Homo sapiens: one gene and its partners. The protein of the gene in region 1 purifies or fractionates together with the protein of each later gene. This does not show direct contact. Each region holds a gene or a part of one and is shown on either strand. Other genes may lie near its edges.

Region 1 (7,754 bases):
TATAAAATATAAACCCTATATTCCTAAATGAAATGGCAAAGATACAACCTTTGTAGTTCACCAGCCACAGTAATATGAGAGGGGTGATTCAGGGCAGAACCTGATGTTAAACATAACTGTACAATATTACTAATTACAGAGAAATTGTACCAATAAATATTTTGGTTGTGGACTGCTTTGTCATCTTTGCAAGTATTTTTAGTTGAAAGCAAGTGGTTGGGTAGTACACGTGGACATGGTTCTGATTTTTAAATACCTATTTTTACATTCTGGTCACTGGTTAGGTTTTCTAAACTCAATTCCTTAGAACTAGTAATTTGGAAAGGGTAAGCCACAAGAATGTTACGTTAAGAAGCCAAGGATCTAACTAGCTCAGCAACTCAGATCAGCACAAAACTCATTTGGAAACCTCCAAGTGCTAGCATTATCTAATGATGGACCCAGGCAGTCAGTAAATCGTTAAGAACAGGTATGAAAGTGAGCAAACTGCCCTAAAGCTATCTCCTGAAAAACAGCAAGAGATATCTGAACTTCCTTCTTTTATATTTAGATGGTTATTTTTTTGGTGGCCTCTCTTCAGATTCATCCCCTAAATTAAATTTGCTTCTTTCTACTTGGACTTAAATTTCAGATTTGAAATATACACACTTAGTTGCTACAAAATGCTCCCTGGCAGTTTACATTTTTTACAAAAGTTAGGAAAAATTTTACTGAAATTATAGCTTTAACTGATTTTTTAAAATCACTTTTAATCTTTTTTAAGGATCACCATGCAACGTAGATATATGAAGAGTTCGAGGGACGTGGCTCAATTCATCCACGAATTTTCTTTCGAAGGTTTTTGCAAAAAGTGCTCTCAACTACTTGGACTAGTGGTTAAAGATTAAAGAACTGTTATGACTAAGTCTTTCTTACAGAGGGATGTTTTAAAAGGAAAGAAACCGTCCCTTCCCGTTACTCTAAATGAGCAGCCTCTTGTTCTCGGCAGTCTGTCTGCACACAAGACCACTACTGACTTCAGTGGGAATTCTGCCCAAGAAGTGAGGAAGACAGGATAGGATTAAATTAGCGCTAAATCCACACCATTGTTCCAAGCCATTACCACTTGTACAGTTCTCCAATAACCTCCAAAGAATAGATATCTGAAGTTTGATGGTGGTTCTTAAATTGAATTAAAAGAATGACCACTCGAGCTCTGACAGGTGACACAGCATAGCTCTTCAAAAGTTGTGTCAAACTCACAGCCTAACGGATGGAGCCAGTTGGCCCTTATCACAATTCAAGATTGCATTGCAATGCAGCCCCCATCAGTGGCTGCAACAGCCACCCAGTGATTTCTCACAGCAATGAGCCTGCAAAGGGAAACTGAATAGGATTAAGCACTATTCGTTCCCCCACTGAAACCTGTTCAAAGCTTGAGAATTCTAAATCCTAGCCCCTGCAGCATAGAAACTGACTCAGTTTCCCTCAACTGCTAAGTCCAAGGTGAAATCTGACAGAACACCAACTGAAATGCTAATTCTCAACAGCGTTATAAAGAGACCAGATAAATAATGTATTCCGTTGAAAAAAACAATAAAAACGTAGGGTGGGGGAGGAAATAAAGACTGAAAAACTGAGGGGAAAACCGCGAAAGTCGTTTTTTTAAAACAGCTTAAATAACAGTAACAAGAGGAACAAGACGCCTGGCACACACATGCCATTTCAGAGGCAAGAAGTTCAAGAAACTGGGGAAAGATGTGATTCAGAAAAGCGAAAATATAGCCACAGCTCCTCTAGATTCCACCTTCTCTCCCATCCACCCAGGGATCTTAAAATTAAGGGCAGCTGTGGTGTTGATGGGGCAATTCAATGAAAGACTACCCGGGTCCGTAGGGAGGGCTCCATACGCAGACCCCTCCCCAAAATAATAGACTCTAGGCAGTAGTTCTTCTCACCAAACCTCATTTTATTTATACATATATATAAAAAAAAAAACTTGACCTCAGGGGAGGTGAGCGATCTAGAGAAGCATAACTGATGTCCCACCACAGACCTCAGGCTGCTGGGGGCAGCGTCTGCGCCTGGGGATGGCGTCCCCAGACGCCGACTTCAACCCTGTCGCGCTCCTTTAGGTTCTCCTCGCCCTTCCCCGCTGCTCACCTAAAAATGCTCCCAACCCTCGGCCCCCAGGCGCAGGAGGAGAAAAAACAAGCCATCTGTGGTGAGATGGCCTGGGTGTGGGAATTGTAAGGATCGGAGCACGAAACACGCGTCCCTCTCCGCAGCTCCCAGACGGCGCAGGCGGCAGCTGGGGGCGCGGACGCGAGCCTACAGCGGGCCCGACCCGCACCGCGCGTGGGGCTGGCGCGCCGCCCTCGCCCGGCTTCCCGCAGTCCCCACGCGCGCGGCCGGCCCGCGCTTCCCCTCCTAAAACCTTCCTCCTGAAGGGCGACGCCGCGGCCGACCCCCTCCCCGCGGGGGGGATGGAGCCGGATTTTTCCCGCTGTTGCTCCACGGGGCCCGGACGCGTGACCTGAGCCCACGGCACCCCGGGGGGGACGGCGTCCTCCCCGTGCCCCCGCCTTTCCTGGCTCCGCCGGGACGCGGCCCCGGTCCCCCGGAAGAGGGAAGAGGGGGACCGCGGGGAGCAGCGAAGCCGGGATCCGGCCCGGAGCAACAGGACCCGGACCCCCGGGCAAGAATCGGGTCGGGCAGAGACCGGGAAGGAAAGGAGAGAGGGAGCCGCAGAAAATCCCAAAGCCGGGCCCCCTCTCCCCGCCCCCCATCCCGGTGGGACCGTCCCGCCACCGCTTCCTGCCCGGAATCAGCTTCCCAGCTGCAGCCAGAGGAAAAATCTGAGCCGCCCCTGCAACCCCACACTGACCAGTCGCCCGGCCCGTGCAGCCCCGCACGCCTCCTTACCCCGACGCCGTACCTCAGGAGCTCGCTCGCCGCGGGACCCGTCCCTCTTCAGTCCCAGCCGCCGGCAGCCGCGCCTGCCTCCTCCCTCCGCTAGGTTTCAAATTGAAATTCCCTGACTGGGGCCGTCAGAGGACTCTGAGGGCCGGCCCCGCCCCCTCGCGGCGGAAGCCCCTCCCGCGACCCCGCCGGACGAGCCCCCGGCGCGGAAACCCCCGCGGGCGGTCCCGCCCCCGACGCCCAGGCCCCGCCCCTGCGCGGGCGGGGGACCTTTCCCGCGGGATTCGGCAAGCGCGGCCGCGGAGACCCGGGGGTGGAGGACGTCTTTCGCCCTCAGGGCAGCCCGGATGACAGCTAATGCGCCTGGGCAAGGCGTTCTCAACTGCGATTCCCGGCCTTAAATGTCCTCTCAACTTTTAAAAGTTATTTATTCAAAGTGCATTTGCTGACTAAACCTTCACTGAGCGCCTTCCTAGAGGTAAACACTGGAGCAGAGCCTGGAGATGCAGAATAAGGAAAACTGGGTCTCCCTCAGTCTAGAGTGGAAAAAGTGCTTTCACAGGAAGGGCATTGAAAAGGAACCATTTATTCTTCCTGTGGGAGGGACAGGAGGGGTTGGGGAAACCCCGTGGAGGAAAGGCCTCCCCAGAGTAAGTAGGATTTCTCTGGGCAGAGGCCTGGGAATCTGGATTGCAGAGCATGACCACGGGTGAAGAAGAGTCTGGAAAAAACCTAGTTTGGGGCTAAATTGTGGAAAGCCACAAGCACACACACGCTACCCTTCTGGTTCTTTTCTTTTGTACAATGAGGTCAATATGTTTCAGATTCAATATATTTCATCTTTTGAAGGTTTGCACGTCAAGCTGGTGTCAAACAACGTGTCCAGCTCACTGCCTCCAGCATCTGCCTCACACGCACCTCTTATCCCTTTTACTCCTCCCACTTTTATTGAGGTCTTTAGTGATTCCACCACAGCCAAAGTCGTCTCCCTTTCTTTCCTAAACAGAACCTTTTCCAAAATTAACAATGTCAAATGAAACCTCAGTAACAATACCTTCCAGTTAACAAAATACATTCACATATTTTATCATCATTTGATCCTCACAATCACCCTATGAAAAAGGCAGGCACGTTTGAGCTCCATTACATCAAAAAGATTTGGGAAGATAAATTATTTGCCAAGGTCCTTCTAGTAAATAATACAAATAATAATAGTTAAGGTTGATTGTGTGCTTTATGTGCTAGGCATTGTTCTAAGTCCCTTACATGTATTAATTTAATCACAATCCCATATGCTAAGTATACAAGTTAAATTTTATAAGGTGTGCTAAAACAGAGCAGAAATCTGATTAGACAGCAATTCTGGTAAAGGAGACCTGGGAATTTAATGAGAAAATACTATTATTTTCTCATAATAAGAAATATGCAGCAGATTTACAACGAAACTAATGAAACAAACTTCGGGATCTCTCATTTTCACAAGCCTTGAAACTAACTTTATAATTTTGTATTTCATTTTGTGTTTTTTAAAGAGTCCCTAAAGTCATATAAGCTTTTGGGCCCATAAAACATTGAACCACCCTGATGGAGCCCCCTTTAAAATGCTAGTGCAAAATAACATAAATATAGGCATAGTTAATAAAATATAATGCCCTTCTCATAAGAAAGGATATGCTTACTATACTCTGCGTTGAAGTACATGAATCACTCCTATATGCCACCTCTTAAGAAGAAATTTTTCCCTCCAAAAGAAAATATTGATAAGCTAAATTATAACCATAAATGGGTGACCTTGAAAATGTGGGAACCAGCAAGATTTAGCCTAAAGAGATGATTAAAGGTGATAAAAAGGTTGTCAAATGTATAAAGGCTATTGTGTGAAAGAAGAATTGAACTCTGTTTTTGGACACAGCCTTACATAGCCCTGGCATTTTAATGGAATGGAACAGATTCAGTGAGGACCTAGCAGGAACTGAGGGCAGAAAAATCAAGTCCCAGAAGCTATAAGGAAGTGAAGAAAACTGATGGAAGTGGCATCATAGAGATTTAGCAAACAACAGGTGGTAGTCCAGACAACCAGGGAAGTCTAACAAGAAGAGAAGAGGGGTTTGAACAGAAAGAAGGACAAAGTCCTGGAATAGGTGACATCCAAAGACTCAGGCAGGCGGAAGCACTGTCAGGACTACCAGGCTGCAGTTCAAGGGCAGAATGTTAATCCCCAGGAAAACACTCTAGGTAGAACAAGATTGGGTCTTCCTGCTAGACACACTGTAGTAACAGGCAAAGGACTGACACAGAGAACAAGAGAAGAATATAGGTACTAGTCCTGAGAGCTACCACATCCAAATTTACCATAATAGCCTCAATCCTGGGCACTATGTGCAAGCAAAGTTAGTCTGGAAGTATGGACTAGAAATGTACCCAGGACCTCCTTAGTGCCCTTACTTACCAACTCACCCCCATAGGCGTGGCCTCTGGAAGAGCTTGATCTCACTATATCCATGAGTCATCATTTTATCTTTGTGCCTTCTGTGTGCCAAGCCCAAACCAGGTTGGAGTGGCTCTGGGTTGAGGACCTGCCCTTCCTTTACGTGGTCCACAGGCAGCAAGACCTGAAAATGCCCTCTCCTACTATTTCTAAGGCATTCTCAAGCTTCATCGTGAATTCATGCAATCCCAGTTCCACTGCCACAGCAACAAACATATCACACAAATGACTGCAGGAGTCACTCTGTCACCTGGCCAACTTTGGCTCAGTTTCAACTGGACTACAAGACCCTGCTTTAGTGACTTAAAACAACCATTTTATTGCTTGTGGTTCTTTGGGGCAGGAATTCAAGCAATGCTCAGCTGGGAGGCTCAACTGTGGATAAAGGATCTAAGATGGCTTCACTCACATGTCTGGCAGTTGGTGCTGCCTGTCAACTGGGGCACCTAATTTCTCCTCCACATGGACTCTCATCCTCCAGACTCTTTCTCTCTCTCCCTCTCTCTCTGTTTCTCTCTCTCTCCCTCTGTCTCCCTTTGTTTTCTGCACGCGCTCCCTCCCTCCATCCTCTATGTGGCCTATCTAGTAGGATAACCCAGACTTCTTTACATGACACCCAGCTTCCAAGAGAACAAAAACAAATGCTGCAAGGCCTGCAAGGGCTTTGCCCAGAAGTCACACAGCATCACTTATGCTCCATTCTGTTGGTCAAAGCAAATCAGAGGGCCAGCCGCAATTCAAGGAGAGGGGTCATAGACTTTGCTTCTTGGTAGGAGGCGTGGAATGTCTGTACAGTGAGGGGGAAAATTGTTGACAGACATCTTGTAAGCAATTCACTACAGGCACCATGTTTTTCTAGTCTGGTATTCAAGTTGGCCCTCAAGCAACTCTTTATACAGATTTTTTATCAAAAGCATCACAGGACCTCCTTTCCATCTAAGACACACCAAGTGATGTCATCTTTGGAAAAGCCACTCCCAACTATGGCTAATAACAGGTATATGCATCTCAAGCCTGCCAAACTGAGGTATTCTCTCAATTGTAGTTGGAGTTTTGCCACACACACACACACACACACACACACACACACACCCTACTTAATTAGGCTCAATGACAGAGAAACAGGGATGGACTGGCTGATTCCCTTAAGCTGGAACAGAGTCTTCAGAGTTGCTCCTCATGACATCTCATAATCAATTGCTCCCTAGAGCTGAAAACAGAAATGGTACAGATCCAATAAAAGTCCCAGAAAAGCTACATTTGGAAAGCACATATGTATATTATTTTAGCGCGTGGTGGCACACACCTGTAATTCCAGCTACTCGGGAGGCTGAGGCAGGAGAATGGCTTCAACCCAGGAGGCAGAGGTTGCAGTGAGACAAGATGGCGCCACTGCACCCCAGCCTGGGCGTCAGAGCCAGACTCCCGCTCAAAAAAAAACAAAAAACAAAAAACAAAAAAACAAAGAGACATCAAAAGAGAAGGCTCCAGGCTCATTCATAGACATAGTCAAAGCAAAGAGGAGACTCTGAAAAGAGCCTAAAGGGCTCTTTAGATTCCTATTTTGCAGGGAATACGCAGAAGTCCTGCTATGGAAAATGATTGAGACAGAACACCAAACTTTAATAAAAGTGGACTGGCATGTGACCACCCCACTCCACTACATGCCTGCAGTCAGCAGACTGCCCACTTAATTAGATGTGGGGATGAGGAAGGTAAAATGACCTTTAAGCAGTGTCATTGGACTTTGCTGGACAGACAGAATTACCCCCACAATACCATAGACAACTTCTGATGTGGTGTGACAAGGCGAGCCAAATTCCTTGGGCCCACGCTGGGGAGCCTTGCCTGAGGAGCATAATTTGTAAGTGGTCTCAGCAAATGGTGGTAAAATCCATCAACAGCGACAATCAGAGCAGCAGAAGAGGCTGTTGAATTACAGTACCAGGGGGAAAATTAGAAGAGTAATCCCCTGGATTATATCCTTGAAATATTTACATAGCCCAGACTTGATTGGCTAGTTTGTAAAATAGCCCCCGGAAATAGTGGCGACAGTGGGATTGGAGCTGGAATGTTGCCGTTTCTAAGCAAACAAATTCCTCCCTTTGGAAAATGGACCATCTTAGAGAGTGGTCCTTCGTTTATTCAAAACAGATGTGTGGCGGAAGGTTGGTATTAGCAAAGTACCATTCTTCAGTTTAGTTTTGTGTGGTTTCCCAAGGCACACAAATGTGTTCTACTTATTAGAAAACACTTAGAAGGATAGGGGTTTTAAGGTTATATGTATGCTCTTACTGCTTATAATCCCACTCTCTCCAGAGGAAAACCTTCCAGGAGGGTGCAATAGCTGAGAAGAAGAACACAC
Region 2 (7,712 bases), on another chromosome or scaffold:
AAGCTGAAACAAATAATGTTTAATTTTTTTCAGAGACAAGGTTTCACTCTGTCACCCAGGCTGGAATGCAGTAGTGTGATCACAGCTCACCGCAGCCTCAACTGCCCAGGCTCAAGTAATCCTCCCACCTCAGCTCCCCATAGTAACTGCCACTACAGGCACGTGCAACCACGACCGGCTAATTTTTGCAGTTTTTGTATTCTTTGCAGAGATGGGGTTTTGTCATGTTGTCCAGGCTGGTCAAGAACTCCTGGACTCAAGGGATCTGCTCACCTTGGCCTTCCGAAGTGCTGCGATTACAGGCGTAAGCCACCTTGCCCAGGCTAAGAATTTTTTAAAAGCTGATAAGAACTTAAAAAGAGTTATACTTCCTTAGTATGAGAATTGTATTGTGGTTATACAAGATAATGTCCCTGTTCTTCTGAACAGGAAGTGGAAAACGTCGACAATTCTCAAATGGCTCAGAAAAAAAAGAAAAACAGAGACATAAACATGGCAAAATGTTAACTAATAAATCTTTGTGAAGGGTGTATGGGTAGTAATAACACAACTTTTCTTTAGGTTTGAAATTTTTCTTTTTTTTTTTTTTTTGAGACAGTCTCACTCTGTCACCCAGGCTGGAATGCAATGGCATGATCTCGGCTTACTACAACCTCCGCCTCTCGGGTTCAAGCGATTCTCCTGCCTCAGCCTCCCAAGTAGCTGGGATTACAGGTGCACGCCACCACACCCGGATAATTTTTGTATTTTAGTAGAGACAGGGTTTCACATTGTTGGCCAGGCTGGTCTTGAACTCCTGTCATCAGGTGATCCACCCGCCTCAGCCTCCCAAAGTGCTGGTATTACAGGCGTGAGCCACCACACTGGATCTTAGGTTTGAAATTCTTCTAAATGCAAAAATCAATACAGGACTGTCCCTCAAAAGGAGTTATAATACTGAAAGAAGCGTCAACATACAGAAATGTCATGAATAAAAAAGGAATGCCTGGGAACTAGGAATGTATCTGTGCTCCATCTTCCACCACTTCAAAGAAACTGCTTTCCCCAATTATCAAAGATCTCCTTGTCAATACTCAATATATGCTCTTCACATTTTGTTTTGACTGCTCCTTCCTCCTTTCTCAAGTTTCTTCTTTCATGACCCACCCGTCGGCGTATCCCTAGGGTTCTACACTTGGTCCTCTTCTCTTCTGAGATATCTAATCCATTTCCATGAGTATACACTAACACTTTAACGACCTCCAAACATCTCTCTTTAATACCACTTTCCCAAGATACACATTCTTTTTTTATTTTTATTTTTTTTTTGAGACAGGGTCTCACTCTGTCATGCAGGCTGGAGTGCAGGGGCACAATCACGGCTCACCGCAGCCTCGACCTCCTGGGCTCAGGTGATCCTCCCACCTCAGTTTCCTGAGTAGCTAGGACTACAGGCCGCCACCATGCCTGGCTAATTTTTGTATTTTTTGTAGAGACTGGGTTTCGCCATGCTGCCCAGGCTGATCTCAAACTCCTGGGCTCAAGCGATCTGCCTGCCTCAGCCTCCCAAAGTGCTGGGATTACAGGTGTGAGCCACCGCGCCCGGCCCAACACGGTCATATGTACAACTACTCCACACATGTCCTGACCAAACTCATTATCTGCCTCTCACCTCAATCTTGCTTTTCCTCCCATCCATATGTCCTATCTCAGTTTCTGGCCTGAAGCCTAAACCTTGTTCAATGTCTAAATTTCCCTTTAAAGCAGAGGTTCTTTACAGTTTTTGTGCTCTGGATTCTGTAGTAGGCAGAATTTTGGCCCCACGACCTTCACTTTCTGGTGTCATGCGGGTGAATATGTTATATTACACAGCAAAAGGGACTTCACAAACGTAATTAAGGTTACCAGTCGACAGTAACATAGGGAGATTATCCTGGATTTTACAGGTGGTTCCAAAGTAATCACATGAGCTCTTAAAAGTAGAGAATTTTCTCTGGCTGTAGACAAGTGATGGAGCAAAAGGGGAAGCAACACATATCTGAAGGGCAGGAAAGATTCGATGTGTCATTACAGGCTTCAAAATAAAGAAAACTGCATGTCAAGGAAACAGGGACCTCTGTTCTACAACCACAATATTTACGGTAGATCTATCTGACTGTCAAAATACCAAAGTGCTCCACGTGGCCAAATAAAAGGGCAATTCCTTCCAGGACCCCAAAACGGGAGTCTGGTCCCTCTGCATATGACCCCTGTCTGTGTCGAGTTAAGGGTGTTCCTCTCCTTACTATACCTACAGAAGAAAATCTTTATTGTGTAACCAAACTTTAAAAGTCCTCCACAGTCGGCTCTGAAACTACGTATCCCAGAGAGGGGAACATCTCCTGCATCTGTTCATCCGGAAAGACAGGCACACTTCAGACCCTTAAAACCAGACCGTGCGTTAAGGGCAACGCACGCGCCAGACCTCCAGTAAATAGGCGAGTTAAAAAAAAAAAAAAAAGAAAATAAAAGAAAGAAAGAAAGAAAAGAAGAAGAAAGAAAGAGAGAAAGAGACAGAGAAAGAGAAAGAGGAAAAAAAGAAAAAAAAAAAAAAAAAGCACAATCCATAAGGGGAAATTCCGGCCGGAGAAAACAGAGAATGGAAGACTCCGGAGGAGTACTAGAAAAATCGAGCCTTCCACCCGCTACAGGTATCCCTGAGGCGTCGGGCACGAGACCCCGCTCCCAGCAGGCCTCCAGGCCGCCCCTTGCCCGGCTCCTTCGCACCGCCTGCTCCAGCAAGGAGGAGGGCGGCGCGCAGGAGGCCAGCGCTGGGGACCAGGAACCCTACCTCTCAGCGATGTAAAGGGTACCAGTGCCGAGGCCCTTCCCGTTCAGCACAGCCTCAGTGTCTGGCTGCTGCCGCAGGAGCCCCTCCGCTGGCCCAGGCGGCGGGAAACTTTTGAGGAAGCTCATAGCAGCAGAGTGCGGCAACACAGGCCCTGAGGGAGTTGGAGCACAGCAATGCGTGCACCACACCGCCCGCCCTGGAAGAGGCAGTCACCCCGGAAGAACAACTTAGTCTGCCCCGGAATCTGAACGCCGTCGACCATAGAGATGAGACATTCTAGGAAAAGCGGCGGAGGTCGGCTAAGAACGTGTGGAGTTTGACCGCGCAACACCCTTCCCCTTCTTCCTCGCCATTTCTGAGGCTTTGGGCTTCAATAACTGAGGGTTCTGTGGGAAGTCCCTCAGGATTGTCACAGTGAAACCACCACTGCAAAATTATAACTGAGACACTGAAAGCGATCTGACCTACCCAAATCCATGTTGTTTCTAACCTCCAAACTGTCCTTGTTCATTGCTGGATATAGGCTGAACTAACTTTGGGAGGAACTTAGTTTACAGTTTGAAGTTTAAAACAAAGATGATGACAGCCTTTTCCCAAAACAAACTTCCTTCTTGCCTGGGGACTGGACTGCCTTTGTAGGACTAACAAATCAGCCACAAGATTAGAAATTATGGTTTAGATTAGAAATTACAGCTGCAAGCTACAAGATTCTGACCCTCCCTAAACTGCACCTAAGATCGGTGCTTGAGATATGTTGCAGACCCTGCACTTGATGGATCAGCTGGCACCACCAGATGGATAAACTGGCTATGTGATCTTGTGCCCCCTCCCCACCAACCCAGGAACTGACTCAGCGCAAGAGGACAGCTTCAACTCCCTGTGACTTCATCTCCCACCCAACCAATCAGCACTCTTGACTCACTGGCCTTCCCCAACCTGCCAAATTATCCTTAAAAACTTGGATCCCTGGCTGGGCGCGGTGGCTCACGCCTGTAATCCCAGCACTTTGGGAGGCCGAGGCGGGCGGATCACGAGGTCAGGAGATCAAGACCATTCTGGCTAACATGGTGAAACCCCGTCTCTACTAAAAATACAAAAAAATTAGCCGGGTGTGGTGGCAGGCGCCTGTGGTCCCAGCTACTGGGGAGGCTGAGGCAGGAGAATGGCGTGAACCCGGGAGGCAGAGCTTGCAGTGAGCCGAGATAGCGCCACTGCACTCCAGCCTGGGCGACAGAGCGAGACCCCGTCTCAAAAAAAAAAAAAAAACAACAAAAAACAAAAAACAAAAAAACTTTGATCCCTGAATGCTCTGGGAAACTGATTTGAGTAAAAATAAAACTCTAGGCCGGGTGCAGTGGCTCATGCTTGTAATCCCAGCACTTTGGGAGGCCGAGGCGGGCAGATCACGAGGACAGGAGATCGAGACCAGCCTGGCTAACACGGTGAAACCCCGTCTCGACTAAAAATACAAAAACAAAATTAGCCGGGCGTGGTGGCAGGTGCCTGTAGTCCCAGCTACTCGGGAGGTTGAAGCGGGAGAATGGCGTGAACCCGAGAGGCGGAGCTTGCAGTGAGCCGAGGTCGCGCCTTGGCACTCCAGCCTGGGCGACAGAGAGAGACTCCGTCTCAAAACAACAACAACAAACTCTAGTCTCCTGCACAGCAGCTCTGCGTGAATTACTGTTTTTCTGTTACAATTTCCATCTTGATAAATCAGCTCTGTCTAGGCAACAGGCAAGGTGAACCCATTGGGCCATTACAGCAGCAACCCTGTTACAACCCTGTAACCCAGTTACATACAACCCTGTTGTAACTGCCCAATGGGATCACCGTGCCTGCTGCTTAGACAGAGCCTATTTATCAAGACAGGGGAATTGCAATAGAGAAAGAGTAATACACCGGTGGCAATGGCTCACGCCTGTAATCCCAGCATTTTGGAGGCCGAGGCGGACGGATCACCTGACGTCGGGAATTCGAGACCAGCCTGACCAACATGGAGAAACCCCGTCTCTACTAAAAATGCACAATTAGCCTGGCGTGGTGGCGCATGCCTGTAATCCTAGCTACTCGGGAGGCTGAGGCAGGAGAATTGCTTGAACCCGGGAGGCGGAGGTTGCGGTGAGCCGAGATCACGCCATTGCACTCCAGCCTGGGCAACAAGAGCGAAACACTGTCTCAAAAAAAAAAAAAAAAAAAAAAAAAAACAAAGAGAGAAAGACTAATACATGGAGTCCCTTGCCAAAGGATGCATAGGACATAGAGACCACTCATCTGGAGCTCAGAAGTCTCCCAACTCGGTTATGATGTTCTGATCTGGCCACCCCGTCCCCATCTCCTGGGACTGTTCACATCTCAGGTATACACAACCAAGTAGCATACATCAATCTAGGTCCTTATACTGCCCTAGTGCACAAGCCACGTCCCCACGTGTCAGGTGGGCAGATAAGTATAAAGGGTTAATAAGGGCAGGGTGAAGAGCTAGCTACATCAGTAAGGAGCTGGGGCACTGACTGGAAAGGAATTAATCCACCAAAATTGCAATTGATGTTTTGTTTCTTCGTTAGGCACTAAAGAGTATAGTAGTAATAGGAAGAAAGACTTCCAAAATCGTCATAATGGTAGCTAAAGTTAACGAGTGTTCTGTGCCAGGCTCTCTTCCAGGCACTTTACCTGCACTTTGCTTGCATCATCTCTTCATTTACTCTTTGCAAGTTTGTGAAGTTACTATTATTGACCCACTTTACAGATGAGAGACCTGAGGCATTAAACTCAAGAGCAATAATTTGGCCATGAGAGAACAAGTGAAATTCAAGTAAATCCCCTTGTAAACTCAGTATGGTAATACCTTTGCAGTAGGACTGCTGAGGCTGGAGGACAGGATGTGTGGGGTAGTTTTGTTTCTATCTTCTCAACAGTTAGGCTGGCATTAAATTTTTAACGTGTTTGAGATCAGCCTGGGCAACATAGTGAGACCCCCATCTCTACCAAAAAATAAATAAATAAATTAGCCCAGCATGGTGGCATGTGCCTGTGATCCCAGCTACTTGGGAGGCTGAGGTGAGAGGATCATTTGAGCCTCAGAAGTGGAGGCTACAGTGAGCCATGATTGTGCCACTGCACTCTAGCCTGGGTGGCAGAGCAAGACTCCATCTCAAAAAAATTTTTTTTTCCTTTAACGTAGACTAGTTTGTTGGTAGTGTTAAAGTGAATTAAATATGGGTTGAGGAGGGCTCTGTACTTCTATATTTGAGTCCTTGTGGATGCACTGTAACCTAAGTTAATAGGGAGATAACTTTGAAAACCTAACTTAGGAGTATTCACCTGTAACAATAGTTGAGCCTTGGCCAATCCCAGCAGCCATACTTCAACAACTCATACACTGTTGAGTGTTCAAACTGTGTTCAAATAAGGCAGATGCCAACCTGTAACCAACCCAGCTGTTTCTGTACCTCACTTCCAATTCTTGTACATCACTTCTCTTGTTTTTTGTCTATAAATTTGTTGTGACCATGAGGCATCCCTGGAATCTCTCTGAATCTGCTGTGATTCTGGGGGCTGCTTGATTTGCAAATTATTCATTGCTCAATTAAACTCCTTGAAATTTAATTCTGCTGAAGTTTTTCTTTTAACAGATGGTGTCAGAAGTGGGATCTGAAGTAGAGGTTGTAACGATCCCCAGGAGTGCTGAGTGAACAAGCAAGTTACCTGCAGAATCCACTGTGTCCTTTGATCTGTCACAGCAGCTGGGGTTCCTGGTAAGTTCTCTCTCAGATTTCAGAGCTCCACAGATTAGTGTTTTGAGCTCTCTGAGTTCCTTTTTTTTTTTTTTCTGAGACAGAGTTTTGCTCTTGTTGCCCAGGCTGAGTGCAATGGCGAGATCTTGGCTCACTGTGACCTCCGCCTCCTGGGTTCAAGCAATTCTCCTGCCCCCTCCTGAGTAGCTGGGATTACAGGCATGCACCACCACACCCAGCTAATTTTTTATATTTTTAGTAGAGATGGGGTTTCTCCATGTTGGCCAGGCTGGTCTGGAGCTCCTGACCTTCAAGTGATCCACCCACCTCAGCCTCCCAAAGTGCTGGGATTACAGGCATAAGCCACCACACCCGGCCAGCTCTCTGAGTTTCTTTGAGCAAATTTCTTTTCCAAACTAGGTTTAGAAGTTGCGACAGAAACTAGACTGGGTCCAGGATCAAATTTGATCTGGTAATTAACTGGCTTGAATCCAGTTAGAGGCCTTTTATATCTGACTAGGCCAGAAAGAAACTGGTAGTACGTGGTGGTATTGTTGGGGTTGTAAAATTTGGCTTTTGAAAATTCACAGGGATTTTTCTGTTCCTCCCCTTTATTTCATTTTTTTTGCTTGCTTAGGTAGGAAAAAATCATTGGCTAAGCTGATCAAGGGAAACTGAAAGTGAAGCCAATATCTTAGGTAAAAATAGATCCTTAATTTCTGGAGGACTGAGTTTCTTCCAGCTTATACCTGCATAAGTGTTAGGCCTGGGAAGCAGCAGAGCCTTACAGAAATGGCAAAATTTTACTAAACATAACTTACAGTGGAAAGTTTCAACTGAACAACAATGCACTGAAGTGCATTTAAAAATGAGGGCTCCCAAATTAGTCTCATCTAGGGATGCCTATTAATATGCAGAAGCTTCTAAAAAGATTTAAAGATGACAGGGCCCATCCAGGGGCAAGTTTGAGTCTTGCCCGTTTGATATTGGGTGCTAAGTGGAGTGGCTAATGTCTATGTTTTGTCACATGTATTTTGCTCTGGCCAATGTGGAAAAAGATAAATTCTCTTTGTGTTGCAACTTGGCCCCCAGGGCTATAGTGCAGTGAGCCAGGTTACTAGAACAACTCAGGGAAAAGGCAACCAGCAAAAGTGAAAGGATTTCTTACC
Region 3 (6,985 bases), on another chromosome or scaffold:
ACCGCTACAAGCAGGAACTAGAGGAACTGAATCGCCTGCAGGGGGAGCTGCAGGCTGTGTGAGACTGGTGTTAGCCACCGCTCACTGCAAGCACTGCCTCCCTCCGGGGTCTGTAAGAGGCCGCAGGGGCCTACAGACCTCATCCCCCCATCCCCTGGCTGGAGCCACTTCCAGTGGCCACTCTCAGGCAGAGTTCAGATTCCTGCCCGCAGGGTCCTCTGGGCTGGGCCTTGGGGCAGCTCCCACATTCCCAGGGATTTTCCCCATCAGTCTGTCCCTTGGGTTTTGCAAGCTACTCTGCACCTGGGCTGGCCTCAGTTGAAGGATCATGCAGTAGATAGAGGGGAGGCAGGGAGAGCTTGTGGGACCTTCAGTGCTGACTTTAGCCACCATTTCCATTCCTATACAGGATGTGAAGGTCAGAAGGCAGCCAATTGTTGGTTTAATTTTTTTTTTTTTTTGAGACAGTCTGTTTCCCAGGCTGGAGTGTAGTGATACAGTCACAGCTCACTGTAGCCTCGACCTTCCAGGCTCAAAAGATGCTCCCACCACAGCCTCCCAGGTAGTGAGTAGCTGGTACTACAGGTGTGTGCTGCCACACCCGACTAATTTTTTTGTAGAGACGGGGTTTCGCTGTTCCCAGGCTGGTCTCAAACTCCTGGGCTCAAGTGAACCTCCCGCCTCGGCCTCCCAAAGTGCTGGGATTCCTTTCTTTATTTCTGTAGAATCTATTTTATGGTTGGCATTTTGGGGGAAGATTTCGATGGGTTCCACATTCTTGCTTTAGTTGTTGTAGAGGGATTTGGGTGTTTCTACCCAAGGCATTGGTCTAGCTTTTCCTACAATGAACCTATCTTTGGAGGTTCAAGCTCCCCACCTTCCCCCACTGTGGTGACCTGTGGCCACTTGCAGAAGGGATGGTGCCTGACCCACTGCCCTAGCCCCACGCTATGCACCAAACTTGTTCTCCCCGTCCTGGTCCAGGGCTGGGGTCTTTAGAGACTGACAGCCTCTGCCCCAGGCCTGAGTCCTTAGCAAGGGTTGGGTAAGGAGGTTTTAAGGGAGAAGGTCCAGTCCTTAGCCCTTGAAATACAAAGCTCTTCTGACACTGAATTTGGATGCACCTTGTTTTATATAATAAATCGTGTTTCACAGATGTCCCTGTTGCTGTGAAGGGGATGCAGGGCAGGCCTTCTTAGGATAACTTTACTTGTTCCCAAGAGCCGGGTGGTGGCAAGTTTGGGTGGACAGGACCTGGGAGGGGAGTGGGTTTCAGGTGTAACCCTGTCAGATGCTAACAAGGGCCAACAGCTTCTGAATGGGGAGAGTTATTCCAAGGCTACAGGCTTTGAACTCTTGTCCCTGAGTTCAGAGTCTCTATCTCTTCCACTGAGTATTTATTTATTTAGAGACGGAGTCTTGTGTTGCCCAGGCTGGAGTGCAGTGGTGCGATCTCAGCTCACTGTAACCTCCGTCTCCCAAGTTCAAGCAATTCTCCTGCCTCAGCCACCAGAGTAGCTGGGATTACAAGTGTGTGCCGCCACACCCGGCTAATTTTTATATTTTTATTAGAGACGGGGTTTCGCCATGTTGGCCAAGCTGGTCTCAAACTTCTGACCTCAGGTGATCCACCTGTCTGGCCTCCCGAAGTGCTGGGATTACAGGCATGAGCCACCACACCCAGCCCTCCCTGAGTGTTTAGTATAAGCACTCTTTTTTTTTTTTTTTTTTTGAGACCGAGTCTCGCTCTGTCTTGCACTGTCGCCCAGGCTGGAGTACAGTGGCATGATCTCGGCTCACTGCAAGCGCCGCCTCCTGGGTTCACGCCATTCTCCTGCCTCAGCCTCCCAAGTAGCTGGGATTACAGGTGCCCACCACCACGCTCGGCTAATTTTGTTTTTGTATTTTTAGTAGAGATGGGGTTTCACCGTGTTAGCCAGGATGGTCTTGATCTCCTGACCTAGTGATCCCCCTGCCTTGGCCTCCCAAAGTGCTGGGATTACAGGTGTGAGCCATCGCGCCCAGCCGAGACAGTCTCACTCTTTTGCCCAGGCTGGAGTGCAGCTGTGCAATCTTGGCTCACTGCAGCTTTGACCTCCCAGGCTCATGAGCCTCCCACCTCAGCCTCCCAAATAGCTGGCACCACAGGACGTCCCACCAACCCAGCTAATTAATTTTTTTTTTTTTTTGTAGAGAGGAGGGTCTCACTATGTTGTCCAGGCTGGTCTTGAACTCCTGGGCTCAAGTGATCCTCCCACCTTGGCCTCCCAAAGTGCTGAGATTACAAGTGTTAGCCACTGCACCTGGCCTCAAGTTTCTTTCTTGAGCAACTACCACATACTAGGGGACTTTCATAGGTTATCTTATTTAACTCTCACAACACCTTAAGCGTTAAGTCTTTATCATTTTCATTTCAGAGATAAGGAAACAGGCCCAAGAAGGCTGAAGATCTTGCCCAAAACCACACAGCTAGTCCATGAAACTGAACTTGGACTATCTACCCCTCACACGGGAATCTCTCTTTGATTTGAGAAAAGGAACCAGTGCCTTTCAACTGGAACAGAAAGGAATCTGATCTCAACACCTATGCCTCCACGTAAATTATTTTTTTCAGCCTTATTTCCCTCAAAATTGTAGAGTCCTAATCTTCTTCTATCTTGTGGTGTGAGACCTTGGATAAGTCTCCCTTCCACCTTTTCCTATTACTTAAAATGGTGAATTTGCATAAACCAGGCTCTAAGGGTCTTTTCTGCACTGTTCGGATGTGTACAAATTGACATCCAAGTTTAAAGGAAGACTCTGAAACTTAGGTCAATGACTTGCCCAAGGCCATATAGCGAGGGCCTGATGTACACATATCAGGAGCTTGGGGCATCCTCAGCTCAGGAAAAGGGACCTCCTGGGAGTGCCTGCGCCCACACGGGATCAAAACGGTGCCCAGCCTTCAGAAACCTCAGCCCGAGTTCCAGGGGTAGGCCTGGGCCGCTGCTGCCCTTGTGCGGAGGCATCCCGTGAGCATAGGGCGCCATAGCCAAAGAAGCGGGCAGTGGGACCATGACGCCAGGAGGACACACCAGTCCAGTCCCGTTCCTGTAGGACCTCGTTTATTATTACAAGGCCCATTTAAGGGCACTTAGGCCCCACTAGGCTCATCAGAAAACCTTGAGGCGGTCCCTGGATTTAACCACTAATGGTGGGTTTGAGTACGGCAAAGTAGGGCACCTTCTACAGGCCTCACTCTCCCCATCTGGCAAATGGGCATCCTAAGCAGCCAGACACCCAAGGGCAATAACGGGAAGGAAAGGTACCCTGCATTTATGTGCGAGGCGGGGCAAACCGCCTGAGTCACCGCTCACGGTTGTGTTTTTCCACCTCCCGGCCGTCCCTCCCATCCGGGTGAGTCCTCGTGGGTCCTCCCGGAGGCGCCCCCTAGTCCCAGGCTCTGCACGCCCTGGCCCCGCCCCTTGACTCGGCCCCGCCCACAGCGGAATCCGCAGATTCGCCAGGTCGGATCCTCAGAATTCCTCGGGTCCCTCGATACTCGGCTGAAAATTCTCATCGGACTCTGAGAGGAGCGCTGGGCTGGAGGCATTTTCCCCAGGGACAGAAGCGGGCTATTCTCTCACTTGGGCCAGTAAGAAAAATCCAAAAAAAGTTGTCGACTCTGCCAGCAGGGATTGGCTAACGGGCCGTTATTTTCTTGACTCCACCAAGGCGGATGAAGGGGAGGCTACGGCTGAGGCCGGGAACAGTGGCGAATCTGCAGCCTCTCAGAATTTGGCAGTGCAAGGAAGGGACGGGGAAGAGAAGCAAAGCGGCGCGCATCCTGTCCAGCGATTCGCCCCGCCCGCCCGGTGAATCTGCGTCTGCAGAACGCGCCACTGAAGGTTCCCCAGCGCTGGCTGGCCTCCTCCCCTCCGCCCCGCCCCTTTTCCTCAGGGACTAGTCGCAGCTTTCGTCGCCGCCGATTCGTCAAGGTCCCGGGCCGCAGCATCTAGATCGTCGTGGCGAAGCCGACTCTCCGGGGGATGCGGCCAATCTCCAAGCTCCCTGGGCCGCAACTTCCGAGCCTCCCAGGGCGCCGGCCGAGGCGAAGCCGCTACCCTCGGCCCCGTGGGTCCCCCGGCAGCGCCTGTGGCGAAAGTGCGAATGCAGACCCTGTGCCCGCTGGGCCTCGCGCAGGTGGCAGTGGTGTTTGGTGCGCGCGCCGGGGAGGTGGTGGTGGGGGGGCGCCGCCGCCGCCACCGCTGCGGGGCCGGGTCTCGCGCTGCCGCTGCCGCCGCCTCGCGCCGCTGAGGTGCCGCGCGAGGTGGGGGGAGGGGGAGCCGCTCGCCGGGAGCGGGTGAGTGGGGCCGCGCGGCGCGCGTGCGCGGAGACCTGCTGGGGGGGGTGCAGAACGCGCCGGGGCGGGAGGAGAGGGCAGCGGTGCACGTTCCCCCCACCCCCCCGCCCGGATTCGGGGTCGAAGCCGGGTCTCGGGCTCGGTCTCGCGGTGTTTCCAACGCCCCGAAGAGGTGCCACCTTTCGGCCGGAGGATCGGGGCGCGGGGAGGAGAGCGGGTGTGTGGGAGCCGTGGCCGGGCTCGGCCCGGGCCGCTGGCCGGTGAGGAGGCGGGAGGGGGCGGGGCCTGCAGGGGGCGGGGGAGGGGTCTTGCTCCGAGGCCAAGTGGGGCGCGCGCTAGGGAGAGCGGGAAGGTAAGGGGGCTCGAGACGGGCCTGGGGGCCTGACAGTAGAGTTGGGAGGTGGAAAGAGGCTGGGTTGTTGTGGCGAAACAGAGGGTACTTGGGGGAGAATCCGGGGGAGCCCCGGGTCAGGGTGAGGGTTGGAAACTGGAGTGATGGGAGAACCTGGAATCGGGGCTAGCCAATGAGGAAAGGCAGGGGAGTCAGGCCCCAAGTCCTGATCCTTCTTGCGTGTCCCTCTTCCCCTAACAGTGTAAATGAGCAAAGATGGATCAGGAAGGTGGGGGAGATGGGCAGAAGGCCCCGAGCTTCCAGTGGCGGAACTACAAGCTCATCGTGGATCCTGCCTTGGACCCTGCCCTGCGCAGGCCTTCTCAGAAGGTGTACCGCTATGATGGAGTCCACTTCAGTGTCAACGTGAGTGCCCGGGTCTTTGGTTGCCATCCGGGGAGCTCCAGGCGCCCGTCCTCTGTGATTCTGTTCAGCACCTAGAACGGTAGCCTGCCTTCTTGAAAGTGGGCAGTTGGACCCAGCTCTTCTGCATGTGTGTGTCCAGATGGGCTGCTTGGAGCTCCCTAGCCTGGATTCACCCTGAGCTCTCTTTCTGCTGCTGCTTTCCTTCCTAGGACTCAAAGTATATACCAGTCGAAGACCTCCAAGACCCCCGTTGCCATGTCAGGTCCAAAAACAGAGACTTTTCCCTCCCAGTCCCTAAGTTTAAGGTAAGTGTCTGCTGGGCTCCTGGTGTGGTAGTCCTAAGAGGGTGTGGAGGATGCGTCTTGGCACTATAGCTGAATAAAAGGGTTTCCAATGAAAGGATCTCAGCCAGATCTAGCAACCTCTGAGGCTGTGAGACTCAGTTGTTTTGGATAGGAGGTACACTTAATCTTCCAGAAAGGTGCAGGTCAGGTGTCCTAAGTGTATCCCTGGTGGCTGGGGTGTCGACTTCTTGAAGGGTGAGGTAAAGACTCTTTAGCTGCTATACCTATCACTGTATATTCGTAGACAGTGCATCATAGCACACAAGAGTGGGATCTCCCAGTTCCTTGACAGTCAAGGGGAGTGACAAGGCCACTGCCTACCTGGGTAGCACTATTCCCCGCCTCTCATTTGGCGATGTCATTTCCCTCTTGTTTCCTTCGAGGACTCCTATTCTCCACCCTAGACAAGATATTCTTCAGGCCTTGAACTGGGCCTGGAACACTGGTGGTTCTTCATTTCCTTCTCTGATTCTTTATTCTTCCTTTCTAAATAAATTGTTTGTGGGGTCCCTTCATTCTTCTTCTTCTTTTTTTTTTTTTTACTTTGTACACTTCACTTGGACAATCTCTTTCACACCCACAGCTTCAACTATTACCTAAATGTTGATGACTTCCAAGTATCTGTTTCCAGCCAACATCTCTAGGCTTGTATGCCTGGTAGGGGGACAGTTTCATTTGGAGGCCACACATGTTTCAGATTTAAGGGATTTAAAACAAATTATCTACCTCCTTAACCTACCTTTTTCATTTTCCCTCTACTCATATGTGGCAGTACCATCGACTCAGCTGTACAGCCTGGCAGCCTGTGATTCTCTCCTTTTCTCTCTCAGTTGGTCACCGAATCCTCCTGGCTCTTTTCTTTTTTATTCTTCATCTTTCTATTCTCATTGCCACTTAATGTAGACCTTGGTATTCATTTCACCTGGTCTCCTTGCCTTCGTTCTTGCCTCAGTTTCTCCTCTGCCTTGCTGTCATTTGTCTCTTTGGCTTCACTACGCTGCTGTTTTCCTTTTGTTGCCAAGTCCATGTTTTGGGACACTGACATGTATGGTTATTGACCTGGCCAAGCCTTATCCTCCGCCTTGACACCACACCCCTGTGTTACATCCACACCATAACGCTTTGCGGTTTTTCAAAAACACCAAGTTGTTTTATATTTCCATGTTCCAGGGGTCCTTGTCATTTGATGAATTGTTAATCCCCAAATCTCAGTAAGAATGACACCATCTTTATGAATTCTTCCCTGATCATACTCTGTACAAAAGTTTCCTTCCCTGGGCTCCAGAACACCATGTATGCGTCAGCTGCCACTGGGTCGTGTTGTGTTTGTATGTGCATGTCATGCTGCTTTTCTGTATGGGAATCTCTTCCTTTCTATCTCTGTATTTCCAGTGCCTCGTTCATGGTAGTTACCTAGTAAAGGCTGAGCTAGGAAATCATCGCCCTGTAGCTCGTTCTCTCCACGTATATTTATTCCTCAGTGTGTACATTTCTTTCTTTCTTTCTTTTTTTTTTTTTTTTTTTTTTTGAGACGGAGTCTCG

What was found. The genes of interacting proteins can lie anywhere in the genome.
Region 2: the proteins of EPB41L2 (region 1) and CLNS1A purify together in Homo sapiens (affinity purification with mass spectrometry; 3 studies listed by BioGRID and IntAct, with this or other methods). This does not show direct contact.
Region 3: the proteins of EPB41L2 (region 1) and SETD1A purify together in Homo sapiens (affinity purification with mass spectrometry; 2 studies listed by BioGRID and IntAct, with this or other methods). This does not show direct contact.

Annotation. Positions count from the first base shown.
Region 1 is NC_000006.12:131,060,238-131,067,991, forward strand, and holds the start of EPB41L2 (band 4.1-like protein 2), read right to left. Parts: upstream 3,009-7,754; 5' UTR 2,918-3,008; exon of another isoform or gene 2,905-2,917; intron 1-2,904. UniProt on the Homo sapiens protein: Required for dynein-dynactin complex and NUMA1 recruitment at the mitotic cell cortex during anaphase.
Region 2 is NC_000011.10:77,634,781-77,642,492, forward strand, and holds the start of CLNS1A (methylosome subunit pICln), read right to left. Parts: upstream 3,015-7,712; 5' UTR 2,935-3,014; coding exon 2,810-2,934; intron 1-2,809. UniProt on the Homo sapiens protein: Involved in both the assembly of spliceosomal snRNPs and the methylation of Sm proteins.
Region 3 is NC_000016.10:30,953,783-30,960,767, forward strand, and holds the start of SETD1A (histone-lysine N-methyltransferase SETD1A), read left to right. Parts: upstream 1-3,971; 5' UTR 3,972-4,182; intron 4,183-4,187; exon of another isoform or gene 4,188-4,342; intron 4,343-4,391; exon of another isoform or gene 4,392-4,602; intron 4,603-4,662; exon of another isoform or gene 4,663-4,694; intron 4,695-4,754; exon of another isoform or gene 4,755-4,778; intron 4,779-4,934; 5' UTR 4,935-4,949; coding exon 4,950-5,099; intron 5,100-5,308; coding exon 5,309-5,404; intron 5,405-6,985. Other genes in the region: ORAI3 (protein orai-3), read left to right, coding at 1-62. UniProt on the Homo sapiens protein: Histone methyltransferase that catalyzes methyl group transfer from S-adenosyl-L-methionine to the epsilon-amino group of 'Lys-4' of histone H3 (H3K4) via a non-processive mechanism.